2 separate regions of the Homo sapiens genome follow, and region 1 is linked to region 2. A link means that fine-mapping ties the variant in region 2 to the expression of a gene that starts in the linked region. Tissue or cell type: lung. Region 2 holds a variant in brackets; the other region holds the start of a gene. All regions are shown on one strand. Distances are between the middles of the regions. Region 1 holds the start of BTBD2 (BTB domain containing 2). Region 2 holds the start of LOC124904610 (a long non-coding RNA gene).

Region 1 (8,317 bases), 26 kb before region 2:
TCCGTCTCTACTAAAAATACAAAAAAATTAGCCGGGCGTGGTGGCAGGCGCCTGTAGTCCCAGCTACTTGGGAGGCTGAGGCAGAAGAATGGTGTTAACCCGGGAGGCAGAGCTTGCAGTGAGCCGAGATCGCGCCACTGCACTCCAGCTTGGGCGACAGAGCAAGACTCTGTCTCAAGAAAAAAAAAAAAAAAAAAAAAATCTCCACATGGCCGAGTGGTTCACACCTGTAATCCCAGCGTTTTGGGAGGCCTAGCGAGAAGATTGCTTGAGCCTAGGAGTTCATGAGCAGCCTGGGCGACAAAGTGAGATCCCGTGTGTGTGTGTGCCTGTGTGTGCGCGCACGCGTGCGTGTGTGTTAGGCAGGGCCTCACTTTGTCGCCCAGGCTGGAGTGCAGTGGCACAATCTCAGCCTCCCCAGCTGTAGCCATCCTCCCACTTCAGCCTCCCAAAAGCTGGGACTACCGGCACACACCAGAACACCTTGTTAATTTTGTATTTTTTTGTGGAGACAGGGTTTCACTATGTTGGCCAGGCTGGTCTCGAACTCCTGAACTCAAGTAATCTGCCTGCCTCGGCCTCCGAAAGTGCTGGGATTACAGGCGTGAGCTACCATGGCTGGCCTACAGCTCTTTAAAAAAAAAAAAGTCCAGGCGCGGTGGCTCACATCTGTAATCCCAGCACTTTAGGAGGCCGAGGTGGGCGGATCACGAGGTCAGGAGATAGAGACCATCCTGGCTAACACGATGAAACCCCGACTCTACTAAAAATACAAAAAAAAAAAAAAAATTAGCCGGGCATGGTGGCAGGCGCCTGTAGTCCCAGCTACTCGGGGGGCTGAGGCAGGAGAATGGCATGAACCTGGAAGGCAGAGCTTACAGTGAGCCGAGATTGCACCACTGCACTCTGGCCTGGGTGGCAGAACGAGACTCCATCTCAAAAAAAAAAAAAAAAAAAAAAAAAAAAAAAATCGTGAACATCTCAGCATTCCGTAAAGTTCACCCTTTCCTCAGACAACCTACCATTTTGTTAATTTCTGTCACCATGGCAGGTATGCCTGTTCTGCACCTTCATCTAGAAGGGACTGCACAGATGTCCTCTTTAGGATTTGGCTGGAAAGATGTCACTTTGCAAATGTATGAGATGAGAGATAAGAAAGTTGACATTTAGAGGCCGGCTGTGATGGCTCCCGCCTGTAATCCCAGCACTTGGGGAGGCCAAGGCAGGCGGATCACCTGAGGTCGGGAGTTCGAGACCAGCCTGACCAACATGGAGAAACCCCGTCTCTACTAAAAATACAAAATTAGCCGGGCGTGGTGGTGCATGTAATCCCAGCTACTCAGGAGGCTGAGGCAGGAGAATCGCTTGAATCCGGGAGGCGGAGGTTGTGGTGAGCTGAGATCGTGCCACTGCACTCCAGCCTGGGCGACAGAGCAAGACTGTCTCAAAAAAAAAAAAAAAAAAAAAAAAAAATATATATATATATATATATATGTATATACATACACACACACACATATAAAATTAGCCAGGCATGGTGGCAGGCGCCTGTAGTTCCAGCTACTCGGGAGGCTGAGGCAGGAGAATGGCGTGAATCTGGGAGGCGGAGCTTACAGTGAGCCAAGATCGCGCCACTGCACTCCAGCCTGGGCGACAGAACGAGACTGTCTCAAAAACAAAACAAACAAACAAAAAAAAATTAGCCTTAGCCAGGCGTGGTGGCGGGTACCTGTAACCCCAGCTACTCAGGAGGCTGAGGCGGGAGAATTGCTTGAACCAGGAGGCTGAGATTGCAGTGAGCCAAGATCGCCATCACTGCACCCCAGCCTGGGCAATAGAGGGAGACTCTAAAAAGAAAAAAGAAAAAAGAAAAAAAAATTGTAACTACCTCAACCACCCACTCTGGAGAACTGAAAATAGCATTATCACTTGGGTTTTTTTAATACCCTATTTTCTTTTTCTTCTTTGTTTTTTTTTTTTTTCGAGACAGGATCTTGCTCTGTTGCCCAGGCTGGAGGGCAGTGGTGGAGTCATAGCTCATCAAAAGCTCAACCTTCCAGGCTCAAGTGATGCTTCCGTCTCAGCCTTCTGAGTAGCTGGGACAACAGGTGCGTACCACCACGCCTAGTTTTTTTTTTGTTTTGTTTTGTTTGTTTGTTTGTTTGTTTGAGACGGAGTTTTGTTCTTGTTGTTCAGGCTGGAGTGCAATGGCGCGGTCTCGGCTCACTGCAACCTCCGCCTCCCAGGTTCAAGTGATTCTCCTGCCTCAGCCTCCCGAGTAGCTGGGATTACAGGCACCCGCCACCAAGCCTGGCTAATTTTCGTATTTTTAGTAGAGATGGGGTTTCACCATGATGGGGTTTCACCAGGATGGTCTCGATCTCCCGACCTGGTGATCCGCCCGCCTCGGCCTCCCAAAGTGCTGGGATTACAGACGTGAGCCACCGCGCCTGGCTAATTTTTGTATTTTTTGTAGAGACAGGGTTTTGCCATGTTGCCCAGGCTGGTCTCCAACTCTTGACCTTAGGTGATGCACCCCCCGCCTTGGCCTCCTGAAGTGCTGGGATTACAGGCGTGAGCCACTGCGCCCGACCTGGTTCCTCAATCTTTGTGGCATTTGTCTACCTTGACATTATGTATGTAGTAAGCGTTTTGGGGGAGTCCCAGCTCCGTCCACACTGACCACCCCCCACACCTGGCCTGGAGAGGGTGCTGGGCGTCTGCTGAGTGTCAGTGCACGTGGCCTGCATCCTGCTCGCTCATCCGCAGCTTCCCGGCCTCAGGCTATGTCTCTGTACAGCGGAGCCTGCGCCACGGAGCAGGCCCGCCACCTGGGTCCGGGGTCTGGGGTCTGGAGTTTGCGCTTGGTCTTTGGGTTGGGGGTTCCGGGTCTGAGGTATGGGATCTGGAATCCGGAGTCTGAAGTCTGGGGTTCAGAGTCTGGGATCTAGGATTCAAGGTCTGAGGCCTGGGATCCCGGACTGAGGTCTGTGCTCCAGGGTTTAGGATTCCCGGTCTGGAGTCTGGGGCCTGGTGCCTGGACCCCAAATTCTGGACCTCGGTCTGGAGTCTGGGCTTCAGGTCAGGATGCTTAGGGAGTGGAGCAAGAGGTCTTCCACCAGCTCCTCCCCTCTACAGGCCCCTCCTACTCTTCCCTCTCCTCCCCGTCCCCTCCCCTGCAACAGCCTCCCCCATTCACCTCCCTTCTCCCCTCCCTCCTCCCCTCCCACCTCCCCTCCTTTCCCCTCCCTCTCCTCCCCTCCCTCCTTCCCCCTCCTTTCCCCTCCCTCTCCTCCCCTCCCTCCTTCCCCCTCCTTTCCCCTCCCTCTCCTCCCCTCCCTCCTTCCCCCTCCTTTCCCCTCCCTCTCCTCCCCTCCCTCCTTCCCCCTCCTTTCCCCTCCCTCTCCTCCCCTCCCTCCTTCCCGCTTCCCCTCCCCTCCCTCCTCCCCTCCTTTCCCCTCCCTCCTCTTTTCCCCTCCCCTCCCTCCTCCCCCTCCTCCCCCTACTCTCCTCCTTTCCCCTCCCTCCTTCCCTCCTCCCCTCCCTCCTTCCCTCCTCCCCTCCCCCGCCCACGCCGCAGCCACAAAATGGCGGCGGGTGGGAGCGGCGGGCGTGCGTCGTGCCCGCCGGGGGTCGGGGTCGGCCCGGGCACGGGGGGCAGTCCCGGGCCCAGCGCCAACGCCGCCGCCACCCCGGCCCCCGGCAACGCGGCCGCCGCCGCCGCCGCCGCCGCCGCCGCCGCCGCCGCCCCTGGGCCGACGCCGCCCGCCCCGCCGGGCCCCGGGACAGACGCGCAGGCCGCGGGCGCGGAGCGGGCGGAGGAGGCGGCGGGCCCGGGGGCGGCGGCGCTGCAGCGCGAGGCCGCGTACAACTGGCAGGCCAGCAAGCCCACCGTGCAGGAGCGCTTCGCCTTCCTCTTCAACAACGAGGTGCTGTGCGACGTGCACTTCCTGGTGGGCAAGGGGCTCAGCTCGCAGCGCATCCCCGCGCACAGGTGGGCGCCCCGACCCCGCCAGCCCTGGCCCCGACCCACCCAGCCTGCTGCCCGGGCCCTGCACCTGAGGCCCTGCACCCCTCTGTCCCCGAGACCCCCGCACCCCTCCATCCCCGAGCCCTGCACCCCTCTGTCCCCGGGACCCCTGCACCCCTGCATCCTCAGGCTCCGAACCCAACTCGGCCTGCACCCCGGGGCCTGCACCTGAGGCCCTGCACCCCTCTGTCCCTGGGACCCCTGCACCCCTCCGGTCCTGAAACCGACCCGGCCTGCACCCCGGGGCCTGCACCCTTCCATCCCTAGACTCCACCCAGTTCCCTGGGCTCTGCACCCCTCTGTCCCTGCCTCTGCACCTCTCTGTCCCCAGACCCCACCAGGCCTGCACTCTGGGCCTCTGCACCCCTCCATCCCCAGGCCCCCCTGGATCCTCCACCTCTGGCTTGCGCCCCCAGCCTGTTCCCCGGGATCCCAGGCCCTGTACCCCTGGGACCCCTGCTCTCCTCCGTCCCTGGACCCACCCAGCCTGCACTCCGGTACCCTCCGTTCCTGGGACCCTCCAACTCGGCCTGCACTTGGAGCCCCTGGGCCCCTCCATCCTCAAACCCCACCCAGCCCGCACCCCAGAACCCTGAATACCCCATCCTCAGGGCCCTCCACCCCCCGCCTGCACCCTAGGACCCTCCATTCTTCCATCCCCAGGACGCTCCATCCCTGGACCTCACCCCTCCCTGCACCCCAGGTCCCCAGACACCTCTGCCCCCAGATCCCTGGGCCCCTCCACCTCCGGCTGGAACCCCTGCCTACACCCCAGGCCCCTCCATCCCTGGACCCCACCTGGCCTGCATCCCTGGGTCCCCTCCATGCCCTGGCCCTGCACCCCCACCCACCACCCCTGGGACTCCTGTGACCCTCCAACCCTGGGACGTGTACCCCTATCTGCTCCTCCATTCCCAGGACCCCAACCCACTGTTTCTAGGACCCATGACCCCACATGCCACACCCCTCCATCCCTATACCCGGGGATCCTCAGGACCCCTCCATCCCCAGGCCCTGCACCCTTGCCTGCCGCCCCTCTCCCCCTGGGACCCCTACTGGTGACCCCTCCGTCCCTGTACCCAGGGACTCTCCAGGACCCCTCCTTCCCCAGGTCCTTCACCCCTGCCCACTGCCCTTCCACTCTCTACTCCCGGGGCCCCCTGGGACCCCACTACACTCAAGTGTGTCACCCCTGCATCCCAGGATGGAGAGACTTCTCCGCTCTCACCTGAGACCCCCCGTCCCCAGTCCTCACCACCTCAGTCCGTAACCCCCAACCTATGACTCCTGAACTCCAGGACCCCTCCCTTCAGGGGTCGTGCTATTTCCTCCACCCCCACCCATGACCACAAGACCCCTCCCTCTTCCCCCACCATCCAGGGACCCTGCCACTCCCACCCGCACCCCTGTGCGCCAAGACCCCTAGGCCTTGCTCCCTGCGTCCTCCCTGCTGCCTCCAGACCCAGTGACCCCCACCGGAGACCCCCAGGCTCAGCACATGATCTGGATCAGAGACCTTCAAACCATGCTGCTCCCCTCCAGGGATACCCCCTGCCCGCCCTGCAGTCCAGATCATAGACTACCATCCACAGCCCCTCCAGCCCCGGACCCCCACCTCAGCCAGAGACCCCTGGGCCCTGCCACCTCCCACTTCAGTGACCACCCACCTCCAGCTCCGCCACTGCCAGGCTCTGGACCCTGGACTCTGCAGAAGGTTGTCTCCCCTGGGCCCTGCTACCCCCTGCACCCCATCCTATGATCCCCTGCCACCAGGCCACCACCCTAGACCCCTGCCCAGACTCCCATCTCCGGGCCCTTCCAACCCAGAGACCCCCAGCTCCGGGGTCCCTCCCTCCCCAGCCCCCAGCCCTCCTTTCTGGGAAAGAAGTGGGTTTGGCCCAGTATCTGTCTTTGCCAGTGTGCGGGGTACCGGCCCCAGGCCCCAGGTTCCCTCCACTCCCCGGTCCCTCTTACCCTGCCCCTCATTGGTCGGGGGCAGGGGCTGGGTTTTCTTGCTGCGGGCACTGGAGGGGGAGGGTCCTGCCCTCCCTTCTGACCTTCGGGTGCTTTTGTTAACGTGTTCTGGCTTCTTCCTGGGTGTTTATGGGCAGCTGGGTCTCCTTTCGTGGGGTCCTGCCCTGGGCGGTACTTAGCAGAGGTTCCTGCCCCTGGAGGGTTCCGGGGCCTCCTACGGCTTGTGCCGTCCGTGTCGCCGTCCCTGTCTCTGTCGTCCTTAGCTGCTGGGCCTCTCCTAGCTTGGAGTGAGGGGCGGTGGGTTTGCTCCCTCCACCTGGGTGGTCTTTGTGCTCTTTGGGGAGGGGGTAGGTTGGATGCAGCTGGAACTCACCCAGCAGCAGGTGCAGCTGGAGAATCCCAGGCTTTCTGTTTGAGGGGGGAGGTGGGGCGCCCCGGGCACCGGCTGACCTTGGGACATGTATGCGATTGCACTTGAGGGACCGCTGGCTCGGTTGCAAAGTGGGGAAGATGGAGGCAGGACAAGGACCCCTTGGAGAAAAGTAGGTGAGGGGTCTGCCCCCGGGGGGCTCAGGAGAGGGCAATGAGGCCCAGCGGGAGATAGCAGCAAGGTAAGGTGGGCGGGCCTGGGACAGCGGACCCTCGACATGCGGGGTTAGGGGCGTGGACCCCCACTCAGCTCAAATCCAAGTACAACTTTTGACTCCCACGAACTTAACTAGGAATGGCTTCTCGCTGACCGGAGGCCTTGTGAGGACACTTGGTCAATGCACACCAGCCTCCTGTTCTCACAATAACAGGCTGGAGAACAGAAAATACATTCAGAAAAGTCTAAGGGGCCGGGTGCGGGGGCGCACGCCTGGAATCCCAGCACTTTGGGAGGCCGAGGCGGGCAGATCACGAGGTCGGGAGATCGAGACCAGCCTGGTCAACACGGTGAAACCCTGTCTCTACAAAAATACAAAAATTAGCCGGGCGTGGTGGCGCACACCTGTAATCCCAGCTACTCAGGAGGCTGAGGCAGGAGAATCTCGTGAACCCAGGAGGTGGAGGTTGCAGGGAACCGAGATTGCGCCATTGCACTCCAGCCCAGGCGACACAGTGACACACCATCTCAAAAAAAATAAAGGACAGGCTGGGCGCGGTGGCTCACGCCTGTAATCCCAGCACTTTGGGAGGCCGAGGCGGGCGAATCATGAGGTCAGGAGTTTGAGACCATCCTGGCCAACGTGGTGAAACACCGTCTCTACTAAAAATACAAAAAATTAGCCGGGTGTGGTGGTGCACAACTGTAGTCCCAGCTACTTGGGAGGCTGAGGCAGGAGAATCACTTGAACCCGGGAGGCGGAGGTTGCAGTGAGCCGAGGTTGCGCTACTGCACTCCAGCCTGGGCGACAGAGCAAGACTCTGTCTCAAAAAAAAAAGGAAAAAAAATAAAAGGAGAAATCCTGTTTGCTGTTCACACAGTGGAGGTGGCCACGATGAAGGCCTGTGTCCTTGTGTTCATATTGAGGGCTGAGGAGCAGGAGCAGGAGGGTGGGTCTGTCTCCGGGGTGGCAGAGGTGGAAGGGGAGGCAGGAGAGGCCGGCACCGTTGGGGCAGCCTTTATTGAAAAAATTCACATATGAGTGGACCTGTGCAGTTGAAGCCTGCCTTGTTGAAAGGTCATCTGTGTTTCCTTAGCATTTCAGGAGGGTTGAAAATGGAGAGGGGGCACTGACCTGGTCCAGAACGACCCCCTGAGCAAGTGATGTTGATGGAGAGTGCAGTGCCCCAGGCTCAGGGATGGAAGGCCCAGAGCCCAGAGGGGCTGGGCAGGTGGGAGCCATGGCAAGGCCGGAGCAGGAGGAGTGAGGGAGGCCCTGTGGCCCAGTGTGACCAGATCCGCATTGAGGGTGGAACGCGCCGTGGATGGGCCCAGGAGCGAGGCTGGGGAGTAGCAGCTGCAGACTCCAGGCAGGAGACAGCAGCGGGCTCGGTGGGGACGGCAGAAATGAGGGGTAGAGGATGCAGGTCCTCTTTGGAGGAAGCGAGTTCCTGTGGCCAGGAGAGGAGGCAGCTTGGCAGGTGAGGGCGTGGGGGGCTGTGGTGGGGGTCCCCAGACTTCTGGCTGGAGCATCACAAGCCAGGACAGGCTCAGGAGGGACAAGTACTGGCTTGGATGTGTTGGCGGGACCTGGGGCTGAGAGGTCCGCAGAGCAGTGTGTCCCAAGTGCTCTGTGCCTCAGTTTCCATGATTGAAACAAGGTCACTCAGACACATCTGTCCTGGGGCTGTGGGAACAAACGGACCCGATGGGTTGCTGACAGCCAC
Region 2 (8,317 bases):
ATGTGGGTGTTTGGGTCCTGCCAGCTCAAGGGCCGGTGGCCGAGTCTAACGGTCTGAGTGGTCCCCTGACGCTCTCCCCTGGGGGCGGGCATGGCGGTCCCACCTCACGGCCACCCGCGTTGCTTCTGCAGGTTTCTCTACTCGGACGAGGTGCAGATTGGCCCGGAGACGGTGATGACCACGCTATACACCGCCAAGAAGTACGCGGTGCCAGCGCTCGAGGCCCATTGCGTGGAGTTCCTGAAGAAGAACCTGCGAGCCGACAACGCCTTCATGCTGCTCACGCAGGTGGGCGGGGCCGGTACGAGGCGGGGGCGGGGCCAGGCCTGGCTGGAGGCGGGGCCGGGGTGGGGCGGACCGAGGCTGGAGGCGGAGGCGGGGCCGGGGGCGGGCCCGGGAGGCAGCAGGCTCCTGCCTGGTAGTAAAATGTGTTTTGGGCCGGGCGTGGTTGCTCACGCCTGTAATCCCGGCACTTTGGGAGGCCGAGGCGGGCAGATCACCTGAGCTCAGGCGTTCCAGACCAGCCTGGCCAACATGGCGAAATCCTATCTCTACTAAAAACACAAAAAAGAGCCGGGCGTGGTGGCGGGCACCTGTAATTCCAGCTACTTGGGAGGCTGAGGCAGGAGAATTGCATGAACCTGGGAGGTGGAGGTTGCAGTGAGCCGAGATCGCACCACTGCACTCCAGCGTGCATGACAGAGCGAGACTCCACCTGAAAAAAAAAGATGTGTTTTGGACTTTTCCGTGATACTTCAAAAAATTATTGGCAGGGTGCGGTGGCTCACGCCTGTAACCCCAGCACTTTGGGAGGCCAAGTAGGGAGGATTGCTTGAGGCCCGGAGTTCTAGACCAGCCTAGGCAACATAGAGAGACCCCGTTTCTACAAAAAATTAAAAAAAGATTCAGGCCGGGCACTGTGGTTCATGCCTGTAATCCCAGCATTTTGGGAGGCTGAGACAGGCAGATCACCAGAGGTCAGGAGTTTGAGACCAGCCTGGCCAACATGGTGAAACCTCATCTCTACTAAAAAAAAATATTTCATAAATTAGCCAAGCACGCTGGTGCATGTCTGGAATCTCAACTACTTGGGGGACCAAAGCAGGAAGATTGCCTGAGCCCGGGAGGTTGAGGCTGCAGTGAGTGGAGATGGCGCCACTGCACTCCAGCCTGAGTGACAGAGTGAGACCCTGTCTCTAAAAAAAAAGTAAAATAATTTTTTTTTGAGACGGGGTTTCTCTTGTTGCCCAGGCTGGAGTGCAATGGCACGATCTCAGCTCACTGCAACCTCCGCCTCCAGCGTTCAAGCGATTCTCCTGCCTCAGCCTCCACAGTAGCTGGGATTACAGGCCCCCACCACCGCGCCTGGCTAAAAAAAAAGAAAAAAAAAAACCAGAGAGAACTTTCTCTCTCTCTCTAAGGAAATGTCAGGTAGACAGAGCAGGGCCAGGGATCTCAGGGGACCCCAGTTGGGCTCTGTGCAGCCCAAAGGGCGGGGGCTGGGGAGGTCGTGCAGGCCAGGGAGGCTGAGAGGACGTGGGGCCAGTACGGGTGGACGGCCGCTTGGGAGCCGTGAGCTCCTGGTCGGGGGTGGAGGGTGGCCAGAGGGGACAGCGGCACTGGGTCCTCCAATGGGCTTTGGGGGTCCGGCATCCTGGAAAGGACCCAGAACCTTCTCCCCCTCCATCCTGGCAGGTCAGATGCAGGGCATCCCGGACTCCCACAGGGAGGGGTTTCTTGTCCGGGTCATCTGGTCGCCTTGCTGGAGAGGCCTCTGCCTGAGCTGAGAGGAGGCTGGAGCTCACTCCCCGGGCTTCATCTTGTGGCTGCCTCAGCCTCCCTGCCCCTAAAACCACTACGAACCCACTTGAGAGGTGTCCTCGGGAGGATGCCCGCAGAAAGGCCTGCCCGGGTCCCTGCTGGCATAGGCCCTTCCAGCACCTTCCACTAACTAAGCCTCTGTTTCCCTAAGAGCACAGGCGTCCTCCAGCTCTGTCACCTGACTGTCAGAAGTCATGTCTGCTGTTTGTCTTGGGATGGAGCTGCCGGGGACACGGCCCCTCCCACCACAAGTGGCCAAGGGCATGTTGTGGTCGGGAAGCTTCACCGGTCGGCCCCGGCCACCTCACCTCTGCCTGCCACTCGGGGTCCTGGGCCCTGCTGCCCCCCGAGTGCAGCTGCAACGCCCCTTTTGCCTAAAGCAGCAGGCCCTGCCGACAGGGACCTGAGCATCTTTTTCTTCCTTCCTTGGCCTCTGAGGTCCTGAGAGGGAACTCCCCAACTCTCCCGCCCCAGTCAGCGGTCACAGGGGAGTCTCTGGGCCCACAACAGGGCCGGCCTGGTGGCTGAGACCCTGGTGGCTCCTGGCCACGCTCAGGAAGGCCCGTGTGGTCAGGGCTGCATTTGAACCGGCCCCGCACTGGGGATCTGCCGAGGGCTGGGTGCTGATGTCCCCACCGCGCCCCCCGTCGATGTCTCTTGCCAGGCGCGACTCTTCGATGAACCGCAGCTGGCCAGCCTGTGCCTGGAGAACATCGACAAAAACACTGCAGACGCCATCACCGCGGAGGGCTTCACCGACATTGACCTGGGTAAGGGCCCAGGAGCCCAGGTGTGGGAATCCCAGCGGGGCCTCGGCGGGAGGGTCCGGGGATTGACAGTGGGAGCTTTGGGCCTGGGGGAGTTGCACAGGTGAGCTGGGGCCTCACCACTTGCAGCAGGTCAGGAGTTTGGGTCCTAGCACAGCCCCACGGGAGTCCGGGGCCTTGGCCAGGAGGCCACAGGCCAGAGCCCACCATCCCAGCTGATGGTGACCATCTCGTCCTCCGATGGTCCATGGCTTTGACTTTGCTGTTGAACAGCTTTTGTCAAAGCTACTCAAGTCTGTCCTTGTGGCTTAAAAACAACCACAGCCGAGGAAAATGAAGGGGCGTGGTCTTGTGTTGATAAAGCTTTATTTATAAACACACTCACAGGGCCAGATTTGGGCCACGGGCCATAGTTGCCAGCCCGGCTTTAACTGCTGGTCCTCACGTTAGTCTCACTGCCTCCTGCAGGGTGGGCATGTGGGTGTCGTGTTCACGCAGCCCCTTCCTCCACCCCACAGACACGCTGGTGGCTGTCCTGGAGCGCGACACACTGGGCATCCGTGAGGTGCGGCTGTTCAATGCCGTTGTCCGCTGGTCCGAGGCCGAGTGTCAGCGGCAGCAGCTGCAGGTGACGCCAGAGAACAGGCGGAAGGTTCTGGGCAAGGCCCTGGGCCTCATTCGCTTCCCGCTCATGACCATCGAGGAGTTCGCTGCAGGTAACAGAGCTCGGGCTCAGGGGCTGGTTTGGGAGGGGAGTGGCACACAGGTGGGCATCTGGGTACCGAGGATAGTGCCCCCGAGTTCACTGCGGAAAGCCTGGCAGATGCCTGGCATATACAGATAGGAAGAAACCTGGCTTGTGAGGACGCGTCCACAGGGCCATCTGTTAGCCCCGGCCCGGCTCTGTCCCCACCGTGCACACTGCCAGACCCCGCCTCTCGTGTCTGTCCAGCTGTTTTGGTGGCATCTTCCCAGGAGGGAAGGGAGTCCCCGTCTCGCGCCCTTGTGCTACCTGCTGGTGCAGGTACCAGTGTCTGTGACGAGCTCAGGAGGGCTCTGACATGGCCGGGGTGGCTGTCATGCGCCCGAGTGGGCCTTGGGGTCCCCTGCTGCAGGGCCTGGGTTCCAGGGTGACGTGAAGGGGCAGCGCTAACGATGCCTCCTGCCCTCGTGGCTGCTCACTGCCTGACGCCATCCAGCTCTGGAGCAAAACAGGCCTGGAACTTTCCAGAAGGGGCTGGGACAGAGCCCTGGGGCTGGTGCACACTCGCCGTCTGGCCTTCCCCAGGTCCACGCGGCCCCCGCTCTTGCTTAGCTGAAGGTCGCCAGATTTAGCAAGAGGGTCTCTGTCGCCCAGGCTGAGTGCGGTGGTACAATCACAGCTCACTGCAGCCTCGACCTCCTGGGCTCAAGTGATCCTCCTGCTTCAGACTCCGGAGTAGCTGGGATCACAGGTGCCACCACCACACAAGGCTTATATTTGTATTTTTTTGTGGGGACAGGGTCTTGCTATGTCACCTGGGCTGGTCATGAACTGGGCTCCAGCCATCCTCCCATCTCGGCCTCACAAAGTGCTGGGATTATGGACATGGGCCACCGAGCCTGGCTAGATACATACTTCTTAAAAATACAACTGTTGATCAGCTGGGTGTGGTGGCTCATGCCTGTAATCCCAGCTACCCGGGAGGCTGAGGCAGGAGAATCACTTGAACCCAGGAGGTGGAGGTTGTGATGAGCCGAGATCGCGCCACTGCACTCCAGCCTGGGCAACAAGAGTGAAACTCCATTTAAAATAAAAAAATATATACAATTGTTGGCCAGGCTGGGTCACTCACTCCTGTAATCCCAGCACTTTGGGAGGCCCAAGATGGGGGGAATCACTTGAGGTCAGGAGTTTGAGACCAGCCTGACCAACAGGGTGAAACCCCGTCTCTACTAAAAATACAAGATTAGCTGGGCATGGTGGCGCATGCCTGTAAACCCAGCTATGCTGGAGGCTGAGGCAGGAGAATTGCTTGAACCCTGGAGACGGATGTTGCGGTGAGCCGAGATTACGCCACTGCACTCTAGCCTGGGGGACAAGAGCGAAACTCCGTCCTGCACTCTAGCCTGGGGGACAAGAGCGAAACTCCGTCTCAAAAAAAAAAAAAATTGTTAACATTGTTTATTGAGTTTTGATACTCAGTCTTCCTGATTCACTTAACCCATAATGGTCTGTTTCTCACCAGTTATTAAACTGTGTCTGCACTGGGCTGGCTTGCAGCTGAGCGATGC[G/A]GAGTTGAGCCCACCTTGGTTGATGAGTGATTAGGTCTCAGGCAGGCAGGGCTGCTCTCATTAGAGCAGAGGGTGCTGTGTCCTGGCACTCCTGGGGGTGGATGGTGGACCCCCAATTCTGCCCCTCCTGGCCTCCCCTCCCTACCCAGAGCCCCTTCACATCCCATGCACAGTCCCTCTGCCTGTGACATCTCTGCACCGGGATTAAGAGCCTGGCTCTTGGAGTCTGCCTGGGGTCCGCTAGCCATCACCCCTGGGGGTGTAAGCGCTTGAGAAGGTGTCTGCCTAGGGCCCACCGTGGAGAGGAACCCCCAGACTGCTTCTAGAAGCCAGGGCTGCAGCCTGGGGGGTACAGGCCTAGCAGGGAGCCACAGTGACCCCTCCCAGCCAATGGCCCTGAGAGAACAGGCAGTGGAGCCCCCCGCCCCCACCCACAGTGAAGTGACGGGTGGTCCCTACAGTGGGGCCAGACCCTGAGACATCACCCCTGAGTGAGTGCATCTGTCAGACCCTGAGGCATCGCCCCTGAGTGAGCGTATCTGTCGGCCTCTGGTCTGTGCCCTGGGACCTCTCCCTAAAAGCCCAGGCAGCAGGGGCCATGGCTGGTGGCTAGTCCCCCGGGGAGGGGCTGCCCAGGTCCCTGCACCTTGAAAGTCCGACGCAGACATCTTAGGGGGAAGGAGCGTGTCCTCCCAGGCACTCGGGATCCTGGGGTGCAGCCCGGCCCTCCCCCACACCCTCCCTGTGCTGCAGGTCCCGCACAGTCGGGCATCCTGGTGGACCGCGAGGTGGTCAGCCTCTTCCTGCACTTCACCGTCAACCCCAAGCCACGAGTGGAGTTCATTGACCGGCCCCGCTGCTGCCTGCGTGGGAAGGAGTGCAGCATCAACCGCTTCCAGCAGGTGGAGAGTCGCTGGGGCTACAGCGGGACCAGTGACCGCATCAGGTGGGGCTTGGGGTGCAGGCGGGGGGGTCCGGACATGGGGGTGGAGGACTCGGGGATGACGGAGATGGGGGGCCGGGCATGGGGGTGGAGAACTCAGGGATGATGAAGACGGCGGGGGGGCCGCCGGGCATGGGGGTGGAGGACTCAGGGACGATGGAGGGGACCGGGCATGGGGGTGGGCTCGCCCCAGCTCACCTTAGGCTATCCCTGGGTATCCACGCTGCTGCCTGTCATCTGCCACGGCAGGTTCTCAGTCAACAAGCGCATCTTCGTGGTGGGATTTGGGCTGTATGGATCCATCCACGGGCCCACCGACTACCAAGTGAACATCCAGGTACCAGCCCCAAGCCTCATCCCCAGGCCCCACTCAGGCCCATGTCCTCTCTCCACCTCCATGGAACCCTGGCTGAACCCCCGGCCCTGGTCCCTGTGCTGCCCCCACCCTGGGCAGGTGGGCTGGGCCTCGAGGGGTCCCCGTTGGCCCTCCCCAGGCCTGAGCCTCCCACTTCCCACCTCCCCGCAGATTATTCACACCGATAGCAACACCGTCTTGGGCCAGAACGACACGGGCTTCAGCTGCGACGGCTCAGCCAGCACCTTCCGCGTCATGTTCAAGGAGCCGGTGGAGGTGCTGCCCAACGTCAACTACACGGCCTGTGCCACGCTCAAGGTGCGCCGCCGGGGACAGGGGTCCCTCCGTGGGAGTCTCTGGCCCATCCTGAAGCCACCGGGGCACAGCACACACTCTCCAGAGGCAGCCACCCTGGCCCAGTCGGGGCCTTGCCCTGTCCACACCTGGGGCATCCCAGCCTGGTGGTCCTTGACCTCACTGTACCCCTATTCCCTACAGGGCCCAGACTCCCACTACGGCACCAAAGGCCTGCGCAAGGTGACACACGAGTCGCCCACCACGGGCGCCAAGACCTGCTTCACCTTTTGCTACGCGGCCGGGAACAACAATGGCACATCCGTGGAGGACGGCCAGATCCCCGAGGTCATCTTCTACACCTAGGCTGCCCGACACCGACACCGCCCTCCCTCCGTGGGGATAGCCGCAGCCCCAGGCCATCATCTGCTGCTGGGGCCCCCCCACCACGCGGTGCCAGGCCCAGTGTCCCCCAGGCCGTCTGTCCACTCCATGCCACCTTTCTCAGCATCAGGACGGGGTTGCCCTGTGTTCACCACGAGTGTGGCTGCTGGATCAGGGCAGCCGGGGAGGTGGCCAGGCCAGTGGCCAGGCCCTGTGGAGACAATCCCTCAGGACTAGGGACAGGGCTGTGCCGGCCTGGGCCAGGGCCCACGGACCCGCAGCTCAGGGCGCCTGCCCACGTCGTCTGCCGGCGGTGCGCCGCGGGCGTCCCTCGCGTCTCTTCACTGCACATTGCAATGCATTTGCGATTCCCATTTCTCTGCTAGGAGCCAGCCTGGGTGGCGCTGCTCCCAGAGCCGTGGGTCCCAGACCTTGCGTTCCTTTTGTTCCTGTCCGTTTATCAGGACACGGGCCCCACCTGTCACGTGCCCGAGGCCACCCAAGCCCAGCCTGCGGGGCGTTCCCACTGCCTGGATGCCGGCTTGAGTTCTGCGCACGCAGGATTCAGTGTGGGGACGGCCCCTGCCGGATAGGCCTAGCCCTGGCCCAGGTGGTGAGCGGTTTGCAGTGTCCGTTCTCATCCACCTGATGGGCCCAGATAAAGGCCCCCGCTGTCCAGCCTCCCTGGACGGCCCTCGCGGTCCCTGCAGCCCAAGATGGGACTCAGACCCTGTGCCCCAGAGCTCCCCTGCCGCAGAATGGGGCCCCAGCCGGCCCCGACCGGGTCCAGGAGCACTGCTCGCCTGTACATACTGTTGCCCTAGCCCACCTGGTGCCGTGGGAGCCACCCCCAGGTGCTGGGGGCACAGCCCCTCCCCACTCCGGCCACGCCCCCACCCACCCCGCGTGTTTCTGCCCTGTGACTCCTGGAACCTGCGTCCTCCCCAAAGCCATGGGAGGGGTGTCCTCCTCAGACCATGCCCCCAGATGATTTTTTTAAATAAAGAAACAAATGCACCTGCCTTGAGCGCACACTGCTTTGCTCCCCTTCACTCTCTGCCCTGTCATCCGGGCTGCAGTGGGCGAGGGATGTCGTGCGCCGAGAGGGGCCCTGAACCCCGGGTCTGGTCGCCAGTGCTGCGAGACCCTCCTTAAGTACCCACAGGCCACACTGAAGCCCGGGAGGTCGAGACTGCAGTGAGCAGTGATGCACCACTGCCCTCCCCCCTGGGCAAGAGCAAGACCCTAACTAACTCAACACCTCCCCCCAAACCCAAATGCAATGGACGTGTGTGCCGATTTCCCCGTGGGGAGGCCCTGCTGGCTGCTGGGGGACCGTGGATGTGAGAGATGGAGAGAAAGCAGGGAGTGCCCAGTTGTGGCCTCAGTGGCCAGAGAAGTCAAGCCGTTGGCTGCTGCCTCAGGAGCACACGTGCAGGGCAAGACATCAAGAAACCCGGCAGCAAGGCCGCGTGGTGG

Evidence for each region.
Region 1: BTBD2 starts here. The variant in region 2 is fine-mapped to the expression of BTBD2 in lung (GTEx, PIP 0.93).

What each region holds. Positions count from the first base shown.
Region 1 is chr19:2,010,974-2,019,290 of GRCh38, reverse strand. It overlaps BTBD2 (BTB domain containing 2), which reads left to right and starts at 3,577. Exons shown (of 9, transcript NM_017797.4): 1 at 3,577-3,994. The coding sequence starts at 3,588. LOC107985278 (a long non-coding RNA gene) reads left to right here. Exons shown (of 4, transcript XR_001753845.2): 3 at 1,991-2,108; 4 at 2,197-2,946. RefSeq lists silencers at 3,771-3,920, 3,931-3,980, 6,796-6,987.
Region 2 is chr19:1,984,991-1,993,307 of GRCh38, reverse strand. It overlaps BTBD2 (BTB domain containing 2), which reads left to right. Exons shown (of 9, transcript NM_017797.4): 3 at 132-288; 4 at 2,486-2,591; 5 at 3,107-3,304; 6 at 5,616-5,808; 7 at 6,055-6,142; 8 at 6,332-6,478; 9 at 6,659-7,860. The coding sequence ends at 6,820. LOC124904610 (a long non-coding RNA gene) reads right to left here and starts at 5,616. Exons shown (of 2, transcript XR_007067086.1): 1 at 4,814-5,616; 2 at 2,938-4,350. The variant G/A (reference allele first, on the strand shown) is at 4,863.